Regions from separate parts of the Homo sapiens genome. Here region 1 is linked to region 2. The links come from fine-mapping of genetic effects on gene expression. A gene starts in region 2. The other region holds a variant in brackets. All regions are shown on one strand. Distances are from middle to middle.

Region 1 (11,404 bases), 21 kb after region 2:
CATCGTAACTGTAAATAAGGCATCTGGGAGTCCTCCCAGCACTTTAACAGATTTAACAAGCAGTAGCATGCGACCCGCAGTCCAAATGGATTTTTTAATAATGAATAAGCATTTATTTAACAAGTAATAACAGTTTTACCACCCTCCGGATCCTCGGAAGTCCAGAGGTCTTGCATTAACGCCTTACACAGGCATCTTCTGCTGCTATCTTTTGTCCATTTTTCTGGTTGTTTTTCTCTTATTGATTGGCAAAAGCTCTTTGTATATTAAGGGTATTAACCCTTTACCTGTGATATGCAAATATTTTAAGTCTGTATAATTATTAAGTTTTCCTTAGGGCATATAGAAGTTTAAATGTTTTATGTTGCAAGGTGTTTTTTTGTTTGTTTGTTTTTTGTTTTAATTTAGAGACTTCTGAGTTTTCAGAATTGCTTGTGAGCCTGAGGAAACCTGTGGCTCTGTTGCAGAAATCCTCAGCTGAGTTCAAACACAAGAGCCCTGGCCATGGAGTACAACTGTGGGTGAATGCCTCTCTTGAGACCTCGGTGGCCTCCATATAATAATGTGTTGAAATAGACAACCTCTCAGCTGCCCCCTGCAGGAATGTCCCATGATTGTAAGATGGGATTTTGCAGGGAAGAGGCTGCAGTGCACTCTGAGAGAGGTCCCAGCCATACAGTCTTTCACAGGTCTATCTCCCCCACCACTTCCAGCCCCTTTGAGAACAGGAACTGCGTCTTTTCATTGCGCTGTCCTTAGCACCTTGCAGAAGGCTGCCTGCCTCATAGTATGCCCTCAGGAGAAATTTACCCATCTGCACTGCTGATTGTACCTGGAAGTGAGCCCTGGCTCCATTTCATGCCCCTGTCTAGAGGTGGTAGAATGGAGTGGATAAGACAGTGTGCTCCCTGGGTTTGGATATTGACTTTTGTTTGCTGGCTGTGTGGCCTTGGGTAAGTCGCTTCACCTCTCTGAGCATGTTTCTTCATCTGTAAAACTGGGGCAAGTCCTCCCAGAGCTGTCTGGCAGCATGAATGAAAAACTGATCTAGCAGCCAAAACACATGATTCCTGCCATGTCGTGGGCAATCAATACACGTCAGGCCTCTTGTATCTCCACTGCTGAGTGGAGTGCATTCCATCTTGAGATGCTAAAAAATCTTCAGTGTTCCCACAGTTTGGGTTCCAGAGTAGACCCTGAGAAATGGATTCAAGGGCAAGTAATTTATTTGGGAAATGATCCCAGGAAGCACCAGTAGGACAGTGGGAAAGTGATACAGGAAAGGCAGGCAACCAATACCGGGTGCTTTATCAAGCCTGTTACTACTGTGGGCAACTGGAGCTCAACTCTGCTGGGGAATTCTGGGAGGGAGAATAGGACTCACATCACAGAGCAATCCACTCCCATTCCCCAGCAAAGGGTGAGGGAGGAGCTGGGGTACTTATACTCTGGCTTCAAATAGTCATCAGTTAAGAGCTGGACATTAATTTCCTGACTCTTTCAGTCTGCCCACTGGGAAGCAAAGTGGCTCTGGAGGCCTGAGAAAGGAACTCAACCAGGCATGCCCTGAAAGGCTAAAGATGAGGTCCTGACACCTTTTTGGAAGGGCAGGTGAAGCAGACATCTCAAGTAGGATGGCCCCAAAAGATTTAAAGGTAGGATTCGGTGGCAGAAGGGGAGTTAATGGGGCCTGATTCTTTGTTGCTCTCCACTCTGATTGCCACCTGAAATTGATAGCTGGTACCAAAGGGCAGTAGTGTCACCTTTCAATAAGATGAAATCTATGTCTCCAGCGGATGGAGACGACAGGAAGATTTATCAAGGCCCTGGCAAAATTAACATTTGGACGGGGGACACGGCAAGAACAGCCTCCAGAGGGGGTCTCTTTGCATTTATTCTGGCTGGTTCCTGCCAGCGGCTGGACTGGAAAGAGCTGCAGGGGTCAGCCATCCAGCTGGCCTCTCAGGGAGGGACGCCTGGACAGACAGATGCAGACACCCAGGGCAAAAGGAGACTGGAAGGAGAACTGTCATCTTTGCTGAGCAGGGAGGCCACCAGGGCACTTGGAGCTGAGTCCTTGCCCTGCCACTCACTTGTTGAAACCCTTTGCCTCAGTTTCCCCATTTGAAAGACAAGGGTATTGTGCTCAATGCTTCTAGCTCTGGCAATCTCTGAGACCATGACACAGAACAAAGCTCTGCCCGGGTGCTATCCCAGCAGTCTTGGGAGGTGAGCATGAATACATCCACAGAATGATGGCTAGCCTGGGTTGAGTACCTATTACGTGTCAGGCACTGTGATAAGTGCTTTACTTGTACTTCCTGTAATACTTACAATAGCCCCATAAGGTAGGCACGGTGGTTTCTGCATTTTGCCTTTGAGCTCAGAGAAGCCAAGTGACTCACCCAGGACTACACAGTGAGTTTGGGGCCAGGTAGACATCGAAACCCAGGTCTACCGGTTCCCAGTGCAGGGCTCCTTCCACTGTAGTCATCCTGGGTTCCAGTTCCAGGCCCTCTGATACTGAACTTCCAAAGGAGTCTCAACTTCTCTCTTGCACAGGAGGATGTATCCAGAGCTCAGGTTCTGGATCAAGATAAACCTGGGTTTGAATCTCAGCTCAATCAGGTCCTTGCCGTGTGGCCTGGCCTGAAACATTCCACGGGAGCCTCTGTTTCTTTGTAAAATGGGCATTGGAGCCATGTCTATCATGAAGATGACATGAGGCAACATGCGTAAAGGGCCGGTCTCTAGGGTCACTGGGAAACAGGCTTCCATGTACGGCCTCCTCCCCTCTCCATTATTCCACTGTGGACTTGCAGAGCTGTGTGGTTTGCATCTGGGGCACATGTGGGAATTAATTTGTGCTAAGGAGGTGAGGTCCTCCCTCCAGGTGAGCAGTGTGGGACAAGGGACCCCAGCAGGCCTGGAGGATGCTGGGACAGAGGCCTCCGCTCAGAGAAGGAGAAAGGCAGGGCCGATGGAGGAAAGGCAGGTGTTGGGAGCAAGTTCCCCTGCCCCACCTCAGACACTTGCACTGAATGCGCCCTCTGAAGCCCCAGCCTTCTACCCTGGAAACACCCTGGGCCCTGGGGTGGAGGAGAAGGAAGGGAGCCCTTGGTGGGAGCTACAGAAAATTAAAGCTAAAAATATGTCTGGGTCAGACCTCAGTTTCCCCATCGGTGAAATGGGTGCAGGCAGTAACACCCCCACCTTAGGCCTATTTGAGCGTAACGGGGTTTTTAAAGTTGGGATTCTAGGCCCCTCACAAACCTGAAAGACATTCACTGTGGGTGCTGTCTGGACTCTGAGCAACTTACTTAACCCCTCCATGCCTCAGTTTACTCGTCTGTGCAATGAACGTAATCATACTTAATGCACTGGGCTGTTGTTAGGATGAGGGGGTGAGGAGTGCTGTCCTGAATAGCACTAAGAACAGTGTCTATGTCTAGGAAATGCTATGCAAATCATGGTTGTTGTTTTTATTACTAATATTATTAATATCATTATCATCATCTCAGGTGAGGGAATGCGGGGCCCGGAGAGGGGCAGAGGCTTGGGAAGGCCACATGATGGTCAGGACTGTAGCCTAGGAGTCTGGCCTTGGACCACAGCCTCAGCCCAAGTCCTCAAACATCCCCTCCCCCATCAAGGCTGCCACATCCCCCTCCCTCACCAGGGAGTGAGAGGAGGCCCAAATCCAATTAGCCTGGGAGCCAACTGCAGAGCATCGCCCCTTTAATATCGCAGGAGAAGCTGCAGAGATAAATGAGAAATTAGAATTCCGCTGGGGTCCCTGAGACCCGCCTGCCGGCCCGCCCTGGGCTGGGGCTGCGGCAATTCTCCTAGGGACCCAAGGAGCTGTCTGAGCCCCAGTGGAGGAGGTGCCCCTGAGGGGCCCTGGGCCAGTGCCTGAGTTTCTCCTTAGGCCTGCCAGCCGCTCCTACTCCCAGCCTCCCATTGCCCACCCACCTTCCCCGCTGCCGCCATCCCACTCCCCTCCCCGTCAACCATAGAATTCACCTTTCCTCTCGAGAGACCCATTCCTCTCCTCCTTCCACAGCCCCTCCCTCCCAGTATCCGAGGGCATCAGGGCAAGGTCTAACCCCATTCTTGGCACGCCCCCGCTTCCCCTTCCCACTCCCCTCCTCTCAGTCCTAACAAAACCCAGGATCCTTCCCTCCTTGGGCTAGGACTGACTCTGCAGCTGAGGCCTCTCTTGGGCCTGGGGGATTCTGGGGAGGACATCACTAGTCCCCCTCAAGGAAGAGGAGGTTCAGGGTCTGTAACAGGAGCTCCTCCTGAGCGTTCCAGAGTAGGTGTGCAAATGAGGCATCTGCAGCCCCCTCCTCTAGAGGGTAATGGGCTGTCATACAAAGCCGGCAGGTCACCACCACAGCCCTGCTGTGGCCTTCCATAGCTCCCTGTCTTGCACAAGACTCAGTTTCCCCTTATGTACAATGGAGAGGGGCTGACATAGGTGCAGGCCTAAGATCTTGGCTTGGACACTTGGCCCAACCCTGGGAAGCAGGCAGGCCCCCCTATCATCAACCCAGCCCACCCACCTGCCTCCCTCCCTCGGGGGACATATTTGCTGCTGGGAAAGTTAATCCATTACAGTTTAAAGGCTCCGTTCCTCGCTGGCAGTAAATTACCTGCTTTGCATTTTGCAGCAACAACTTAACGGTATTAATTTATTGTGCTCTGTCTTTAACAAACATCATTATCATATTGCCAGCCAGGATTATGCAAATGGGAGGGACAAGGGAGAAAGAGGCTGAATCTTGTCCCCAAAGTCACCTTGATTTATTAACTTTGGGGCCCTGCAATTGGCCAGGTCTGGGAGGTGCAGGTGAGTGCAGAGGCCAGGAGAACCCACAAAGTCTGGGCAGAGAGAGTCCTGAGGCCAGAGGGGGACTCCCAGGGGAGGGCACCCTTGGAGGGAAGGGCTGGCTGGGGCTTAGAGGGATTCCCTTGTCAGGTGACTTTGGACAAGTCCATTCTGTCTTGGGCTTCGGTTTCCCCACCTGTAAATGGAGGTTGAATTAAGAGGTCCCTGGAGCTCATAACATATGAACTTGAGATTCAGCAATACATTGTGAATGAGTGAGAGAGAGAGAGAGAGAGTTTATGTGTTTGGGCAGGGTGGGCTGAGTAGAGAAGAAGCCACGTGGTCCTGGGGCTGCAGTGCCCCCATGCCGGGCTCCCTGGCTGCTGCGGCTCCTGAGCACCAGGCTAGTCATGGATGGGCACATGGTGGGAGATGGGTGAGCTGGGGCTGAGAAGAGAGGGGTCTAAGGGAAGGGGCTACTTCTGGGCTGAGAGTCTAAAGGCTGACGGCAGGGGTCAGTTCATGAGAGGGTCTGAGACTTTTAGGCTATACACCAAGATGCTGGGTTGGGAAGGGGAGGCAGGACCATGCCAGGCTGGGAGGCAGCACCCTTTAGCTCCTGATTTTGCATCTGGCCTGGGGGCTGGGCTGGCTGGAGGTCTACTCATGGGGTCCTAGGCCTCCGCACAGCCTCCGGCAGCTCCTCCTGAGCCTCCTGGACTCTGAGTTTACCCCGAGAGACTCTAGGTTGGGCTGCCAGGGGAGCTGGAGGCAGGTGGGCTGGGCCCCCCCTCTGCCCCTCCCTGTGCGCCTCCTCCCTTGGGCTGGCTGTGGTGAGAACCCGCCTGATTACACAGCTGGCTGCCCCCGGCCACTGGGCCTGCTCCCCACCACCTGCAGACTGGCTCTGCCAGGAACTCACTGGGACTACATCCAAGCACCCGTGGGCGCCAGCCCAGGGTTCTGCCCTGGCCATCAGGGTCCTTCCCGGGCCCTGCAGAGGCGCCAAGGTGG[G/A]AGCTGGAGAGGGGCCAACAGAGAGGAGATGACACCAACCTGGCTGGCCAAAGCTCTGGCCTGGCGGGTGTGGGGTGGTGGGGAATTCCACGGGGAGGGTGGCACCCCCTGTCTACTGAATTCCTGAGTGGCCCCCTCTGTGGCCCCATCCCTGCCCTGCCTTTGGCATTTTGCCAAACCTGCCCTTGCCTCCTGGTGCCCCAATCTCTGCCTCAGTCTCTGAGCACCCCCACTGCCCCCTCTACTTGCTCTGTCCTGCATCGCTGTCTCTGGGTCTCTCCCTGTCATGGGGGATGGGGCTAGGGAGGGAGCAGGAAGCAGAGGGAAGAGGTATTGAGGGGGCATGGAGTGGGGGAGCAATTCAATTTCCAGAGTTGGCCCTGGCAATACCGGTTGTGTCGTGATAAGAAAGCCATTTCCCGTGATGGCTCCTAATCCACACCCTCCTGCCTTTGCATGCAGCAGCTCCCTTCATCTGCCTGTGGCCAGAGGCTGGAAGGGATCCCTGTCCACTATGGAAGGGGCCATGTCTGCTCCAAATGAACCATGCTGAGCAGCATCTGTGTGGCCGGGACAAAGACCCATGCCGAAATCTACAAGCCCAGGAGAAGCCGTCAAACCCGATGAATAATCCCTCGGACTGTTCTAAATTCAGATGGACATGCACAGCTGTGATCTAATTTGAGCCATACATCTGCCCTTGAGAGAAGTAGGGATCACTCCCATTTTACAGATGGGGAAAGTGAGGCTCAAAGTGGTTCAGTGATTTGCCCGAAGCTACACAGCAAGTGCGTGTAGAGAGAAGCGCAAGTTGATGTGTGCAGGGCTGAAGTGTGAGGTGAGGGTGCAGTGCGGGAGCCGCAGCCTGGGCTTCGAAGGTCGGGGGAGTAGGGGAAGGAGGGGAAGGAGACAGGCAGGGAGTATGAGGAGAGGTGAGGAGAGGTGTGTGCTGGGCAGCAGCTCGGTGGGAGCCCAGCTAGGAAAGGAGCCTCGGGGTGGCCTCGAGAGGATTTTAGTGCTGTCTGGGCAGGGGGTCTGTGGGATACAGACCTGGGAGGGATGGGGGCATGGTGGTCAGAGAAAGAAGCTGCTGGAGGACACAGGCGAGCCAGGACCACAGTCAGGGAGGCAGCTGTGACTGTCAGCAGGAACACGGGAATCCTCTACGAGACACCTACACCTGAGTCCTGACATCAAAGGGGTTTCTCGCCTCTCCGGTCGCCTGGTTTGGAGCTCAGCTTTCTTGAAAACTTTCTTCCTGCCAGTCTCCTGCACAGGCCCTGGACACTCCTTGGGCTGGACTGGGCCCCTTTTCCAGCCACACCCTTCACTGGCTGGGAGGGTTGCAGGGAGGCCTCGGGCTGAGCCAGGCCCTTCTGCTGGCTCCCCTGTGGCCCGCAGGGGCAGAGGAGGGAGGGCAGCTGGGCTGGGGATTCAACAGGAGGGGCAGTCTAGGTGAAGCCAGCCAGGCCCTCCTGATTTGCTCCCCACCAGGAAGTTTTCTTTGTTTGTTTTGGTTTTTCCTTTTTGTTTTATTGAGACAAGGTGTTGCTCTGTCGCCCTAGCTGGAGTGCAGTGGTGTGATCACAGCTTACTGCAGCCTTGACCTCCCAGGCTCAAGTAATCCTCCAGCCTCAGCCTCCCAAGTAGCTGGAATTACAGGCACGTGCCACCTCGCCTGGCTAATTTTTAAACTTTGTAGAGACGAGGTCCCACTGTGTTGTGCAGGCTGATCTCAAACTCCTGGCCTCAAGATCAAAGTCTTGGCTTCAAGTGATCCTCCTGCCTGCGCCTCCCAGAGTGCTGGGATTACAGGCATGAGGAGAACTGACCAGGAATACAAGCAAGGATGGATCCCGAATCCTGTTTGTCTCCCTCTGCATCCCTACCCCCCACTGCTGACTCCAGAAGGCCTGGTGGGGAGCGGTGGTGGATCTGGGGGCTACAAAGCCGGGCAGGATTGTTTACCCTCTCCCTACCTTCCCCTCACTGGCCCAACTGTGATGGGGGTGAGATGGCAGGCTGGGGCTGTGGGAGGCTCCCAGAACAGCTGGTGGCTGTGCAGGGCCGTGGGTGGTGGCAAGTGGGGACCTGCTGGAGCAGGCAAGCTAATCTCATTTGGTTGCTGCAGTCGCAAACAAGGACTGCATGCTAAGTGGCCAGAGGCAGCAGCGGGACTCAGGGCCGACCCAGGCCCCACGCATACCTGGGAGCACCTAGAGGCCAGCCCTGGTTTGAATGAGGAGCCATGTTGGGCAGGGGCAGGGGAATAAGGAGGGGGAGGATGCGTCTTGTGGGGTAAGAGGTTACTCCCCGGGAAATACCTGCTGGGAGATAGGGCGCCAGGGTCAGCCAGCTCCTCCCAATCCTCTGGCCTCTCCTCCTCTAGCCCTCCTCCTGTAGGGTCCTGGATCAGATGCCACTGGGCAGGAGGCATCTGGAGAGCAAGCTTCATCCCCTTTGCCAGCAGAATTGTGATTGGAGAGAGGGACCCGCCTGTTCACAGCAGAGCATGAGGGAGGCATCGGGGAAGGTGCTGGAAGAGGGGAGGGGAGGGGGCTGGGGGAGCCTTGAGCCTCGAGGCCCTGCCCAGTCACTCCACTCCTCTGAGCCTCTAGGGGCTTGTTTAGAGGCAGGGCCAGGGAGGTGCAAGAAGATGCCCTGGCTGTAAAAAGGTGATTGGGCTTGCGACTCTTGTGAAATGGTCTGAAACTATCTTTAGCTTAGATGGGAGTGCCAGGCTTGCAGGGCCCAGGTTTGGCAGATGAGCCAGGCCAGAAGCCAGTGCCCTGAGGGCTTCCTGACTGCCACCCACACTCTCCGCCCGGCTGCCACTTCTCGGAGCAGCTGGTACCATCAGCTCCCAGGGAGAATCCTGAAATCACACAGGTAGCTCTGGTCTTTGGGCAAAGGTTTGTGCTCTAGACGTGGGTGGCCTGAACTTGGGGCTGCATCATGGTAACAGATGGATTTGAAGGCAGAGCTTGCAAGGGAGTCCAGATGGCCACAGCCACCATCCAGGTCTGTTTTTGGTACTTGCTGGGCCCCTGTGGGCAGCTCCATTTGCAACCCCTTTGGAGCTCCTTAGCTCAGGTCTTGCTGATAAAAATAAGCCCTGCCAATCACAGGGGGCTTGAACCACTCTGTGACTCAGCTTCCACATCTACCCCTGAGGGGCTGCTAATGAAATGAAATGAGGCATCTCAAGTGTCCTGCCCAGAAGCCGGTGCAAAGGAAGTTCTGTTTTCGTTTTGCAGCATCTCAGCCCAGTGTACCACAATGTTCTATCATTACAGTCTGATGGGCCTTTAGAAAAACGGCTCTGCTTCACTTGCTGTGTGACTGTGGGCAAATATCTTCACCTCTCTGAACCTCAGATTCTCCATCTGTAAAGTGGCAACAATAATACGTACTTTATAGGAATGTTGTGAGGAGCTAAAGAAGAATATAAGCAAACTTGAATAAGGCAATAAATATAAACACAGAACAGTATCCAGTTGGCAATAGGTGCTTGATCAATATCTGTTGCCTGTGCAACACTTTACTTTTCAGGGGGATACACTGAGGTCCAGAGAGGGGAAAGAGTTCATCCAGGATCCCAGCTGGATCAAAGGTCTCCTGATGTCTGCTGGAGGAACAAGAGAGAGGAAATCCCTGGCCTTTTGTTTCACCAACTGTAAAATGAGAGGGCTTCACCGATCTATGGTTTCCAGCTGGGATCTGGGCTCTCGGGGGCCACTGTTGGAGTCAACACCAAGCCCGCGGAGCTCCGGGACCACCTTTTCTGGTTCTCAGTCCACGTCTCTTTCACTCGTGAAGGGCTGCGGAAGGCTCCACGTGAACAAACTTCCTGCCGCTCAGCCTTGAATGTGTGAAAGCCCCCTACTTGTTTATTTTCAGGGCTCCTGGCAGCGCAGACTCTCTGGGACAGGGATTCCTCCCAAGACCCCTGCCCAGGTAGACCCCCTATGTCCTGGCCTGGGTCAGGGTTGGCTCAGCTGCCTGGAGTGGGTGAGCAGACCAGAAGCATGACCCTGCCCCACCCCCAGCCAGCTGCAGCCCGGGCCTGGGATGCTGGTTCCGCCAGCAGTTAAAGTCCCCCTGGTTGTCTAATTTAATCACAGCTGTGTGCACGGTGACTCTATAAATAATTTTTAGTGCGACATAACCATTATTTCACTAATTGCTTCACGCGCACCCCTGGCCTGTGAGATAAATTAAGGTTTGCTGAGTCAGCACCTTTGGCTGATGCTGCTTTGGGGTTTGGAAGTACAGCCCCAACAACTGGGCTGTTCCCACACCAGCCTCAGCCCAGCACTGAGGGGAGGGCGCCCCTCACGTGAAGTGGCCAAGGGTAGAATGAGTGAGGAGGAATGAGGAAAGGGCTAATAAGGGTGGCCATGTACAGTTGCACAGGTTGTGTCCTGCACCAGGGTGCTTGGCTAAGGGGGCAAGTGGGGGCTGAAATCCAGCCCATACTACACTTTTGCAATCCATGTGCTCTGACATGGGATTTTGTTGGCCCAGAAGAAGGTGGTACCTTCTTTTAATTTGCACAAAGGCTAGGAAGGAATCAGCAGCTCCAGAATGAACTACCACATAGCAGGTTGTCAGGGCCACCTCTCTGAGAGAGGAGGCCAGGCAGAATATCCTTAAGGATCTTCTCATGTTAGCAACAGCATGGAGACCCAGGCTCTAGATCTGATGCTGAGTGACCTGGGCAAGTGACCTTCCCTCCTCTGTGTTTTAATATCTTGACAGTTTGATCCCATCCAGAGCCTGTGTTCTTTCCTCTGCCTATCATACTCCAAATTCAGTAGGTGTGGCTGGAAAAAAAGGTTCACATGGTCAAGTACATTTGAGAAACATCGAGTTAAGTGGTTTCTTTCTGTAGAAATTTTCAGAGAGCCTACAGTGTGTTCAGGAGCAGCAGACTTGCAGGGAGGGGTGGAGATGGTGTAGCTTTTCCCAGTGCATTTGGCTGTGGAATCCTTCATTTTAGGACTCTTATTCATCCTGGGATCCTAGTGTCTATCTCTGGGCTTATTAGTGAGTGGATGTCATCCCCAAGGACAGAGAACGCTCCTATTCCTGGCCATAACTCTAGACTCAAGGCACTTCCCTATCTGTCATCTAGATCTGATGCTGAGTGACCTTGGGCAAGTGATGCAAGATTGCGAGTGGGCAAGATTGCTAGATCTTGCCTTCCTTCTTTGAAGGAAAATCTAGCAAAAATAGGTCTCCCTTCAAATCGGTGAAGTGTGGGGGGAGCATCCTGAGTCCACGGGACTCGAAGTTCCTTGAGGGCAGGTGCTATGTCTACCTTATTTATTGCCAGTTCCCTGGGGCTTAGCTTGGGACCATCTCTTGAGTGAATGAATGAGTGTCTATTTTGAAAAGAGACAGGAAAGGAGATAATTGGCTTCATATCCTGCCCCAAACCTTACTGGCTGGTGACCTTTGAGCAGATTGCTTCTGAGAGTCCAGTGCCACCACAGCTCTGTGTCTCTTTTGTCAAATGTAGATCAAGGACCAGATATGGTGGCTCACGCCTGTAAT
Region 2 (11,404 bases):
CTTGGTACCCCTTGGCATGGAGGCTGCCTTCTCTGCTCTTATTCCTCCCTACCCTCCTTTATCCCATAGATAACTGCGAGACAGCCTGCAGGTGTGCCTCAACAGCACTTCCTCCTAGAAGCCTCTGCTGCCCCGCCCACTGGCTGTCACAGTTATGAGAATTGTTCATCTTCCTCCCTGGACCACCAGACTCCTGTCAGCTGGGATTCAGGCTGCTTGCTCACCATTGTGTCTCCACCATGCAGCACAATGCTTAACACATAGTAATGCTTTATATGTAAATATATGTAAATGCTTTATATGTAAATATATATATATACATTTTAAACTGGATAATGAATGTATGGTCAGACAGGCAGATGGGTGATGCAAGGAAGAGGTGCTATTTGGGTTGGGTCCTTAATGCTTTGGAATATCTTCGGGGAAGGTTGTTCAGGTGGAAGGGCAGGTGGGGCTGGATGCAGGAGTGTCAGATTGGAGGCACAGTGGGAGATAAAGGAGGATGCAGACGGATTACAAGGACCTTGAATGTCATAGTGCCGAGTCTGGACTTAATTCAGTAGGCAATGGGGAGCCATGGAAGGGTTTTAATCAAGCCAGTGACACGATCCCACCTGCGTTAGAGAACGATCGCTCTGGTTGCCGCAGGGGTTGCAGCGGGAGGGTATCAGAGGCTGGGAGACCAGGGAGGAGGCTGCCACAACAGGTTAGGCATGAACCAGTGAGGTCTGAGCTGGAGAAGGGATCGCGAGATGGATGAGAGGGGAGAAAAGGTAGAGATTAGGATGAAATGAATCTGTGGGACTCTAGAACATGTTCCCACACTGCCGGCTGCATGCAGGGACTCCACCTTCCTCAAGGCAAAGGAAGAAGGATCCTGAAGTCAGAGACGGATCCTGAAGTCAGAGACAGATCCTGGTGGTCCTAACTCAATTCCCCTCCTGCAGGGGTGCAGGCAGCTGAGATCATGTGCAAAACCAAACAAGGAGGAACTGCTGCATTTACCCCATGGGAACCAAGGAATATAAATGGAGGGATATGAGCAATAACAATACTGCTTTATGTATGGGGTGTCCTATGTGCCAGGCATTGTGCTCAGCACCATACATGCTCATGCACATTTGATCTTCACAACCCAATGAGACAGGTATTACATTTTCCTCCATTTCACAGAGGAAGAAACTAAGGCTCAGAGAGGTAAAGTAACTTGCCAGCAAGTCACAAACTCAGGCTGGTTGGACTCCAATGCCTACGCGCTTAATCATCTATTTATATTATGCACAGGAAAGAGCTGGTAACAAGTGGATGGCTGAAGGCTTGTGGGTCTGACGACAAAGCAAGAAGTTCCCAGCCTAATCCCAATGTGACAGCAGGAAGGAGCCTGCTGATGGGGCATGGAGGGAAATGTGGGGGAAGAAGGGAATTCCTCCAGGTTGCTGTACCTCATGTGTTTGAAATCAGACCCACATATTCGGAAAGGTGTGTGCCCATTGTAAGAGAGCTGAGCTAAGGAGTGAGTAGTGAATATATCCTTAACCCCCAGATGGGCCACCTTTGGAGTAATTAAAGAAAGGGATCCTTTTCTGGGGGTAAGCAGCCCCATAGGCCCATGGCTGGTAAGTATATGAAGCCTTTTTGCAAATTAGAGAAAGATGCCCCCTCCTCCAGGCAGGCACAGCCTGTCTTTGGGGCACCTGACTTGGAGAGTGGAGCTTAAAATAGATTTCAGTCCCCGCTCTCCTCCTGCATTAAATGCCCTTGGACAGTCAACAACCTGCCCAACTGCATATAACAGCCATGCCTCCAGCCTTCCTGTCCTGCACCTCTGTTTCCAAGCAGCCACTGTGTATCATCAACAATGAGAAAACGTCCCTCCTGCCAGATACACAGAGCTCAAATCACTCCACAGACAACTTTCTTGTTAGGCCTTGTCTCCTCCATGGGCGGAAAGACAGTCCTATCATGCCCACTGCCCTGATGAAAAGTTGAGGTCAGAGCCTGTCCTCGTGGTGAAATATCTAGGCTTTCTCTAGAGAGGCCAGAATCAAAACACAAGGTTGTAGGAAGGAGAGGCCTGAGTTGAGAGCTCCATCTTAAAGGTGCTTTGAGGAACCCGGGGTGGAGGGTGTGCCCACTCTTGCGGGGGGCATGAGGCTTTTCTCTCTGAGCCTGACCTGAGGCCTGGGTTTCCTCTCAGCCTGTTTCCCCACCTGGTCCCCAGCCCCTAGCACCCTTCCTGGCTCAGCTATGGGGAGGAATGAGGAAGTCCTTGGCCCCGGGGCCTCAGCCCAGACACCACCGTAGGGTCTTCTATTCCCTCACTCCCTCCCAGGCCATGCAGTGCCAGCTGCTACCCGTGTTATATAAACAGAAATCATTCACTCTCTCTCACTCTACCTGAGGCTGCATTTCAGATTGGAGCTTCCTGATGGAAGAAAAAGGGGAGGGGGAAGAACAGAGAGAGAGAGGAGAGGAAGTTTAATTGGCTGACTCTTATCGCCCATGTGGTAAATAAACTGGCTGCTCCGAACTTTGCCAACTCGGGAGGAGACGGGCCCTCCTGGGCTCCCTGCCTTAGCTATGGCCCGGCCCCCTGTCAGACAACTTCAGAATGCAGCGCTCCTGCAAAGCTCTCAGAAAGACCAGTGCCTGGGGAAGCAGCAGGGGCTTTGGGGGTTCCAACCTCTAGGTATGATTATTCCAGAGCACGACCAGAAACATCCAGAGATCACAGCCACCCTTTTGACAGAAAGGCTGTGACTCACCCGGAGGTCACAACACACTTTTAGGGGCCAAACTTTGTCCTCTGCTTCTGCTACTCGGCGTCTCTGCTAAAGGCATTCAACAGCTTTCCTCCGGCACTGGCCTGGGAGCACTGGGGGTCTAACTTGAACACCTCATGCTGAATTTAGAGCAAGTGTCTTCTTGTCCTGCCTGCAGCGTGAAGCCAAGAAACGGCTCTGTTTTGCCCCAGGCCTACCCAACACATAAGCAGCGTTGGTGAGGCCTGGATGTCAAGATGCCTGGGTTCCTATTCCGGCTCTGGGTATAGCTTACCATGTGACCTCGGGCTGCTGTTGCCAATCCTTGAAAATGGAAAAGAGGGCAGCCCAGGTGGTCTCCAATGTGCTGCTCACAGTTAGGAATAGGGAAAGGGGTTGTCTCCAGGGGTCCCCTGATGGGGCCACCCAAGAGGTACAGGTGCCCCTTAGCTGAGAGAGACCTGGCTGGCTTTATAAAGTACCTGCCCCCGAGGCACTGGCAGTGGTGGACCGGGAAGGGCACACAGACATCTCCAGGAAGCAGTGTTTAAATGTTGGCAATGCCCTTCCCTTCCAGGAGGAATGGAAGAGGAGTGTCCCAGACACTGGGACAAGGAGGGAAATAAGGGTGAAGTAGAGAAATGGCTGGGGCAGGGAACAGTTGAGTGCTACAGAAAAACTGAGGCAGACAGGATAGAAGATGGGTCGGGGTTGGGGGGGACGAGGAAATGGTCATTGGTGGGCAAAGACCAAAGGATGTCACTATGGGTGTAGAGGCCAAGTTTCAACAAGGGCTGTAGACTAGGGGCAACTGAGGGGGACGGAGTGGGCACTGATGGACACATATACGGGATACAAATGAAGGACAGAGAGTCGCGGTGGTTAGGGAGGAGCCTTTGGGCCCTAGGGCAGTGGTGATGCTGATATAGGGTATTGGCGCTGACCAGTGGGAGAAGAGGATGAGATCCTGAACCTGGGTGGAGAGGGAGAGAGAGCTGGCAACAGCCAAAGCCCTCAAATGAGCCGCTGCCTGTGCTGGGGGCACCTCGGCCAGCCCCAGAAACCTGGGGAGTGCTGGAATCAGCCCCACGGAAAAAGAAGCTGGCATGCGCAACCCTGGCGACGCCCGAAGGGTTTGGAGAGAAGAGGTTCCAAGGAGCGAGCACCTCGGAAGACCTGAGCAGCTTCAAACAGCAGCTTCTCTGCCCGCCACAAGGGGGTGCCCTGCACCTCGGGGAGACCTCGGGGGATCCTGGATCAGCCCTACCCTCTGCAGCCCCGCCTGGGACAGGGCCCGACGTTGCCAGAGAAGAGGCAGCGGGGAGGCGCGAGCGAGACGGGTCCACACTGTGCCCACCCAGGGCTGCCCGGCACCCCGCGCGCCCACGCAGTCCACTCTTCACAGTAAACGCCGCGGCCCCCGAGGGTTAGCCCTAAGTGGCGCTCTCTTTGGACGTTAGGCTGTCGGGGGCCCCGTCCTTCTTCCCCAGCGGGGACGGTGTCTCCGGAGTCGGGTCCTAAGGAAGAGAGCAGCGCTGGCTCTCGCTCACCGCCAGCCCGCCCGACGGCCATAGGGCAGGGGGGGTCGCGCCGGTGGGGCCGGCAGGGGTCCCTGTGGGCCGCCTCCCCGGCTCAGAGGGGACCAGAACCGTGCGTGTCGCCGCGGCTGGAGTCAGCCTCCGGGTGTCCCCGGACGCGGCACGACCTCGCACACACACACCGCGCGCACACGCTCGCGCCGTGCGGTATTTTCCCGGCCCCGGACCCCGCCTCTGGGAGGGGCCGGGGAGCCGAGCCCCGCTAGCAGGGTTGGGGGACCGGGAACGCCTGGGTCCCAGCCCTCGCGTCAGGGCTGTGCGCCACCTTCCCAGCCCCTTTTGGCGCGCCGGCTCGGCCCCTGGCGCTGCCACCCCTCGGCCCGCGGGGGTCCCGGAGGCTCCCGGGCGCGCGGCGGACGAGGTTGTGGGGACGGGTGGGAGCTGCGGGCTTCGGGCCGAGAGGCGGCTCGGCTCCGCGCCGGGGAAAGTTTGGACGTGGGAAACTCCCTCCCCGCCCTCCCGGCCGAGAGGAGGGGGCGCGCAGGGCCGGGCGCAGGCACCCCGGCTCCTCCTGCGGCTGGAGGCTCGCCCCCCGCGCCGCCTGCCCGGCCGCTCCCGCCGGCCAGGGGGCTCCCTCCCTGCCGGGCAGCCTCCCCTCGGCGGCGATCCGGCCGCTCCTCCCGCGGCACCCCGCGCTCTTACCTCGGGGAGCGGCCCGGGGCTCCCCCTAGTCCTGCCGCCTCGGGACGCTGCGTGGGGCGGGAGCCCCGGCGCGGGCAGCGGGCGAGTCCGGAGCCCCGCGGCCGCCCGCAGGAGCCGGAGGGAGAGCGGGAGCGAGAGGGGGAGCCGCGGCGGCGTGTGCGCGCGTGTGTGTGAGCGAGAGAGCGAGAGAGCGAGAGAGCGAGGGAGTGAGCGAGCGAGCGGGAGCGAGGGAGTGTGCGTGTCTGACTGGGGGGAAGTGTGCAAGGGACGGATCCCTTCCTTCCTCCCGCAGCCTCTGGTGGAGACTCGGAGAATGCAGGGCCCGCCGGGCAGGAGCCGCGCAGCGCCAAGCCGCAGGCGGCCGCCGGCCCGGACCCCCGCAGCCGGGGAACCCCAGCCCCCGCCCCCCGGATCGCGCCCCTCCTACACCAGGAGGGGACAGCCTTTCCCTCTCTCGGGCGGCCCAGTCCCAGGAAACCCCCCAGGGGACAGTGCCCCTCCCTCCTCCAACCCCAGATCCGCGCGAAGGGAGCGCCCCCAGGAGGGGGACCATCTACCTCCTCGCCTGGCAGCTCCCCAGGTGGCCGCAGTTTGAGACCAGAGCCTATTTCCCCACCTGATTTTACTGCGAATAGGGCTTCCCATTTCCGCCCCCTGACTACTGCGGGAGGCCGCCTTCAGAGGAGCAGGGGCGCAGGCCAGGGTAGGAGCAGGCTTCTCGAACAGTGGCCGCCCCGGCTTGCTGCCCAGAAAGGCACCTTGCACAGACCAGATCTGCCAGTTCAGAAACAGTCACTGTGCATTGAGGTGGACACCGACCAGGTGCCCAGGGCTGAGTCTCCAGGCAGGTGGGAGGTCGGGTGTCCCCGGGAGAGAAACTTGTGGGCTTTTCCTCTGGAGAGTCCCGCTGGACATCCTTGCAACCAACAAAGTAAGCAGGCAAAACAAGACACCTCCATCCTTAACTTGGTGCCACCTTGACCTGGAGAAGTCTCCCAATAAAATCTTCCCACTGCCCAGAAACTCCTTGCTGGTTGGGTTTTCCGTTCTTTTAAAAATCCGGCTGGTCTGCTCCCTGATGTTTTTTCCACCTGGCCCTGTTTCTTTCTCCTGGCTGCCTGGCTCTCCTTACTACTTCATCTCTCTGGGATGAGGCCTAATGGAGGAGACCCTCCCACCCCACTCCTGAGTTCCCAATATGAGGTCGTTGATGGTAGGATAGGACCAGTGACTCCCATAGACCCACCCTTTGTCTTGGGTTGTAGGTCCCCTTAGGAGTTGCCCGCCCCCCTATTCCCCATGGCTTCCAGATAGGTGAGTGAAGGATAACAGGAGACTGGACAGCTGCAGACCTCTGTCCCGCCAAGCTGCCAATGACCAGCCATTTAATCACCCACAAGCAGCTGCTGAAGTTCATGGCAAAGAGGGGGCAGGGCCCTCCAGGACCCCCAGCTCTACCTCGCCCCTATCCTTCTCTCCTCCTCGCCTCCTTCCCCAATTTCCATCTCCATCTCCACACCCTAGTCCGTCTTGCTGATGATTGGAATCACCTCTCCTGCTGGCTGCCCCTCTGGCCCCTCCTACTAAACTCCATCATTCATTTATTTATTTTGAGATGTATTCTCCACTGTGCCAGTCTGTTCCCTCCCCTACGTCCTTCTCTTGGTTTATTTCCCTTCATTGATCTCTTCCAGCCTTGCCTTTCTATCGCCTTCCTTTTCTCCATCTCTCTCTTCCCCTCTCCTCTCTATTCTTAGCCTCCACTCTTTCATGCTTTCAGAGACCAGAGGCCAGCCTTCCAGGTGCATCTCTTCACTTTTGGTTCTCTCCTCCCGCTCTGACTCACTTTTGCTGTTTGCTCCAGTTCCCATTCCTTCTTTGCCTCTTCCTCCAGGCTCTGGTGTGTGCTGTTCATCTCTGGAGTCAGACCTACTTAGTTGTCCACAGGTTGTTTTGGTCTGGGACACTGTTGCTGTCACATCTGCATGCACACAGTAGGTGCTCAATAAATGTTATTGAATGAACTGTTGTCACATCTTTCTCTTTTGCTCTGGTCTCTCTCTTCTCTCTCTTTTATTTTTATTTTTTTTTGAGATGGGGGTCTCACTATGTTGTCCAGGCTGGATTCCTGGACTCAGGTGATCATTCTGCCTCAGCCTCTCAAGTAACTGGGACACCAGGCATGTGCTGCTGCACCCAGCTCCCCATGACTCTTTATTAGACCCTCAGGTTTTCCTATCCCAATGTTTCCTATTTTCAGGCTCATTCTACCGTTATTTCCAATTCTTCCTTCCTTCAACAAACTTTCTCTGAGTGTCCACTCTGTTGTGAGCACTATGGCTAGGCTCTGAGAACACATTGAATGTTTATTGAGCACTTGCTGTGTGCCATAGTTCTGCTTTTAAGTCCTCACAATAATCAGATACTAGTATTAGCCCATTTTACAAATGAGGAAACTGAGACACGGTGTTGAAATAGCAAGATCATTCAGACGGCAAGTAGAGAGATCAGGTTGACGCATTGGGCCTGGGTCAGACCTCTCACTCTGGTCTGGGAGAAGGTAAGCTGGGACTCCTGCTGCAGTGTGGCAGGGGCAGCAAGAGGCAGTGTAGTGTGACAGAGGAAGAACTGGGCAGGCCTGGGCTCTGAGAGCAGTTCTGCCCCATGCAGACTGTGTGACACGTGGGCAAGCCACTTCCCCCAGCATTGATGTGAAGAGAAAATGAGATGATAGTAACAACAGTTAACATTTAGTGAACCTGTGCCATGTGTCAAGCCTTCTCCTAAATGTTTTACACAGATAATTTCCTTTTACTTTCAACAAATTTATAAATTCATAATGGGGAAACTGAGGCACAGTGCAACTATGAAACGTGCCCAAGGTCACACAATTAGTTTATGGCAGAGCTGGGATTCAAACCAAGGCAGGCTGGGGCCAAAGCCTGCACACTGAACTGTTGTGCAATATTGCCTCTGGGCAAATAAAATGCCAAGTGCTTTGTAGTTAGAGTTTGAACGTGTGCTTTTTTATATCGTGTGGTGAGTCTACAAATAAGAGAGACACCACTCCTCCAGGGATTGGGTAGGATGAGGAAGGACTTGGGGAGAGAGGCATGGCTAGGGAAGGATTCCAAGAGGAGGCGCTTGTGAGAATTCTCCTTCCCACTCCATCAGAAGGGCACACAGCCCTGTCTTGGCACAGGGGACATGTTTTCCCCTGGAGTAGTCATCTGGGTCCATGGGCATTTCTCTCTCTCTAGCCCAGGGTCACTCCACTTTGGCCCTATTGACATTTGGGCCAGATAATTCTTCGTCATTGGGCATGTCCCATGTAGGATGCTTAGTAGCATCCCCAGCTTCTACCCACTAGATGCCAGCAGCACACCCCCTCCCCAGTTGTGACAACTAAAAATGTGTCCTGACATTGCCAAATGTCTCCTGAAGGGCAAAGTCACCCCCAGTTGAGAGCCACTGCTCTAGTCTGAACGCCCTAACAGCAGGGTCTGCTCCAGGGAGCCTGCAGGTTTGAGCAGGGGTCAGTGAAGGGTGTGTGTGTGTGTGTGTGTGTGTGTGTGTGTGAGTGCATACACGCGTGTGTGTTGGGGATGGGGAGGCTGCTCTTAGCTCCAGGCTCTGCTATTCTCCCTGGCTCTTTTCCTCTTCTTCTCTACACTTCTCTGTCATCCCTTTATCTGTCTGTCGCCTTCTCATGCACTGTCCATCTGTCCTCGCTTCTCTGACTGCCTCCACTCCTGTCTCTGTCTCCTCCCCCTCAGTGTCTCTGGTCTCTCTGACTGTTTCTGAATGGGTGTCAGTCTCTTGCTACCTGCCCCTACATCTTCTCTAGCACCCTTCTCCCCTCCCCCCATCTGCTTATCTCCTAGCTGTGTCCCTGCGTCTGTCGTTCTCTTTCCGTTTCCCCCTCCCTCTGTCCTGTTCTCTCTGCCTCCATGTCTGTCTCCCTCTCTCTGTTTCTCTGTCTCTTCCCATCTCTGTTTCTTCGGGGCACCCAGTCTCCCTCTGTCTCCCTCTTGCCTGTCCTATTCTGGTTCTCTCTGTCCTCATCCCGCACTCTCAGTGCCCCGTTTCCCTTTCTCTCTTCTCCCCACACTTCCTTCTCCTCTTCCTCCTTCCCTCCTTCCTTCCCACTCCCCTCCTCCCGCTCCCTTCCTCTACTCTCCCCACTCTGTGCTTCCCCTCCCTTCCCTCCCTTCCTCCCCCTCCTCCCGCTTTGTCTGTGGGAGCTGGAAGTTAAAAGCTTTTCCGAACTTGTTCTCCAGTCGCTGTTCCCGGCGCCTTTCATCTCGCCAGCACATTTGTAAAACTGCGCAGACTGAAGGGCCGTGACATGAACAACCAAAGAAATGTCAGCGCGGGGACGGGGCCGCCAGCCCGCCGGGGGGCGTAGGGAGCAGCCGGGGCACACCCTAGCCCCTCCCCAGAGGGACCCGGGACCCGAACGAGGGCGCCCCACCTGGGACTCCGGGCGCTCTGCACCTCTGCGAGCCCGCTTTCTCCGCCGGGGCCGACGGGACCGCAGGGAGGGGGAGGGGACTACTTGGGGAGGGGACTCCATGGGAAGGGAACTTCGAGGGGACGGGGAGGCCGCCCTTGGCTGGGGGCGCCAGGACGGGGAGGGGCGAGCCTGCGGGAGCCACAGGCGCCGAGGCCGCTGCGCCCTTAAGCACCTCCACCTCATGGCGTTAATCCTCGCAGACCCCGCAGCCAGACTGCCTGGGTTCAAATCCCATCACCGCCACTTGCCAGCTGTGTCACCCTGGGCAAGTGACTTCACCTCTCCACATCTCAATTTCCTTATAGTAAAATAGAGATGGTGAAGATTGGATGAGCAAATCCTTGTAAGGCACTTAGAATAAGTGTTTGCTGTAATTAATAAGAAGAATAGCAGCAACAACTCACAAAACAGGGTTATCGTCCCCATGCTACCGCTGGGGAAACCAAGGTTTAAGGGGAGAAAGTGACTTGCTGGACGACTCAGACCAAGTCAGGGGACGAACAGGAATTTAAGGCCAGCTCCTTCCTCTCCTTTCCCCTCTTTTTCCTCAAGGAAGTGGGTGCAGGGATGGAACACAAGTTCTAGGAGCTTAAGAATTGAGTCTGTTTTGTTCACTGCACTATCCTCCGAATGCAGCATATAGTAGATGCTCAATAAATACTTGTTAAAGGTATGCATGAATGAATGAATGCAAATGCTGGAAAGGTGCCAAGGTTAGAAAATGGAAAGGCTACTTTGTCTGTGGTGGGCTGGGGTGGGGCCAGGTGGGAAAAACAGGAGCCCAGCACCTGCCAAGTTCCAAGCCTTGGGAACTTGGCACTCCATCCAGGGCCTAAGCACAACGGCAGCACTATGGACAGTGGCTATGGCCCAGGCCAGGATCCAGCTTTACACCGGAAGCTCTCCCGCAGCCTGGTGGGCCCGCCCTGCTTCTGGGCATGACATCTCAGCCCACATCCCAGCTCCCTAACCCCGCTCCTGTAACCTCTGTCTGGGGCTAGGTCCCAACCTTCTGTCTCCTACACACACTCTGTCTCTTCTCTCTCTCTCTCTTTGGACCCAGATCCAAAGCCAGTGGGAAAGACGCGCCTCCCTCCTTTCCCTCTCCCTACCTGTCAGCCCTAGACAGCTTCTGCAGCCCTGAGGCCTGACACTGCAGGTGGCTGCGTGGAGATGGGAATAAGAGTCCCCTGAGCTTCCCTGAAAGTCCCTAAAGACACAGCAGAGTACAGCAGAAACTGAGCACTTGGACCTTCCCTCTTGAGCCCCCTTCCCTGGGGTGGTGGGGTGAGACAGCCCTACCACACTCCCCACACACACTTCAAACACCGACTCTCCCTGAATTATTCACCTGCCTCTCCCCAGGGCTGCTGCAGAGCGCCCAGCCCAGGTGCTGAGGAGGAAAAAAGCAGAAAGGCCCATTAAATTTAAACACCGCTGAGGATTGTCAGATGTGAGGTTCTATTCCTGGCCTAGAGAAGAGCCGCCAGTGGGAAGGGAAAGGGGATCTGCAAGGGGATGAGGACGAGGGACCCACCCCGGGCCGAGTGACCTGCTGAGCACCAGGAGGGCTGGGGCCAACATGCCAGGGAACCCGGACCTTCCTTCACCTGAAGGTTCTCACCCATGAGGAAGTGGACTTTGCCGTACCATTTCATTCATGTTGTTCTGGCAAGAGAGGAGGACCCATCTAAGAATAGCTTCTCTGCAGCTACCTGAAAGCCCACCATTATGGCTTCAGCATGAGGAACAGGGCATTGCCTCTCCAGCTTCCTCTCCAGCTGTTTCCTTCTTGCACCTTATATTCTGGTAGTGCCAAACTCTTTTAGCTTTTATCCACTCTGAGCTTTTTTAATGTTGTCCCTGCCACCTGGAGCTCCCTCTCT

The links.
Region 1: its variant is fine-mapped to the expression of CDH22 in pancreas (GTEx, PIP above 0.99).

What each region holds. Positions count from the first base shown.
Region 1 is chr20:46,324,563-46,335,966 of GRCh38, forward strand. No RefSeq gene overlaps it. Among named protein-coding and RNA genes, the nearest start is that of CDH22, 22 kb to the left of the region's middle. The variant G/A (reference allele first, on the strand shown) is at 5,846.
Region 2 is chr20:46,303,253-46,314,656 of GRCh38, forward strand. It overlaps CDH22 (cadherin 22), which reads right to left and starts at 5,246. Exons shown (of 12, transcript NM_021248.3): 1 at 5,003-5,246. RefSeq lists a silencer at 137-355 and an enhancer at 9,963-10,911.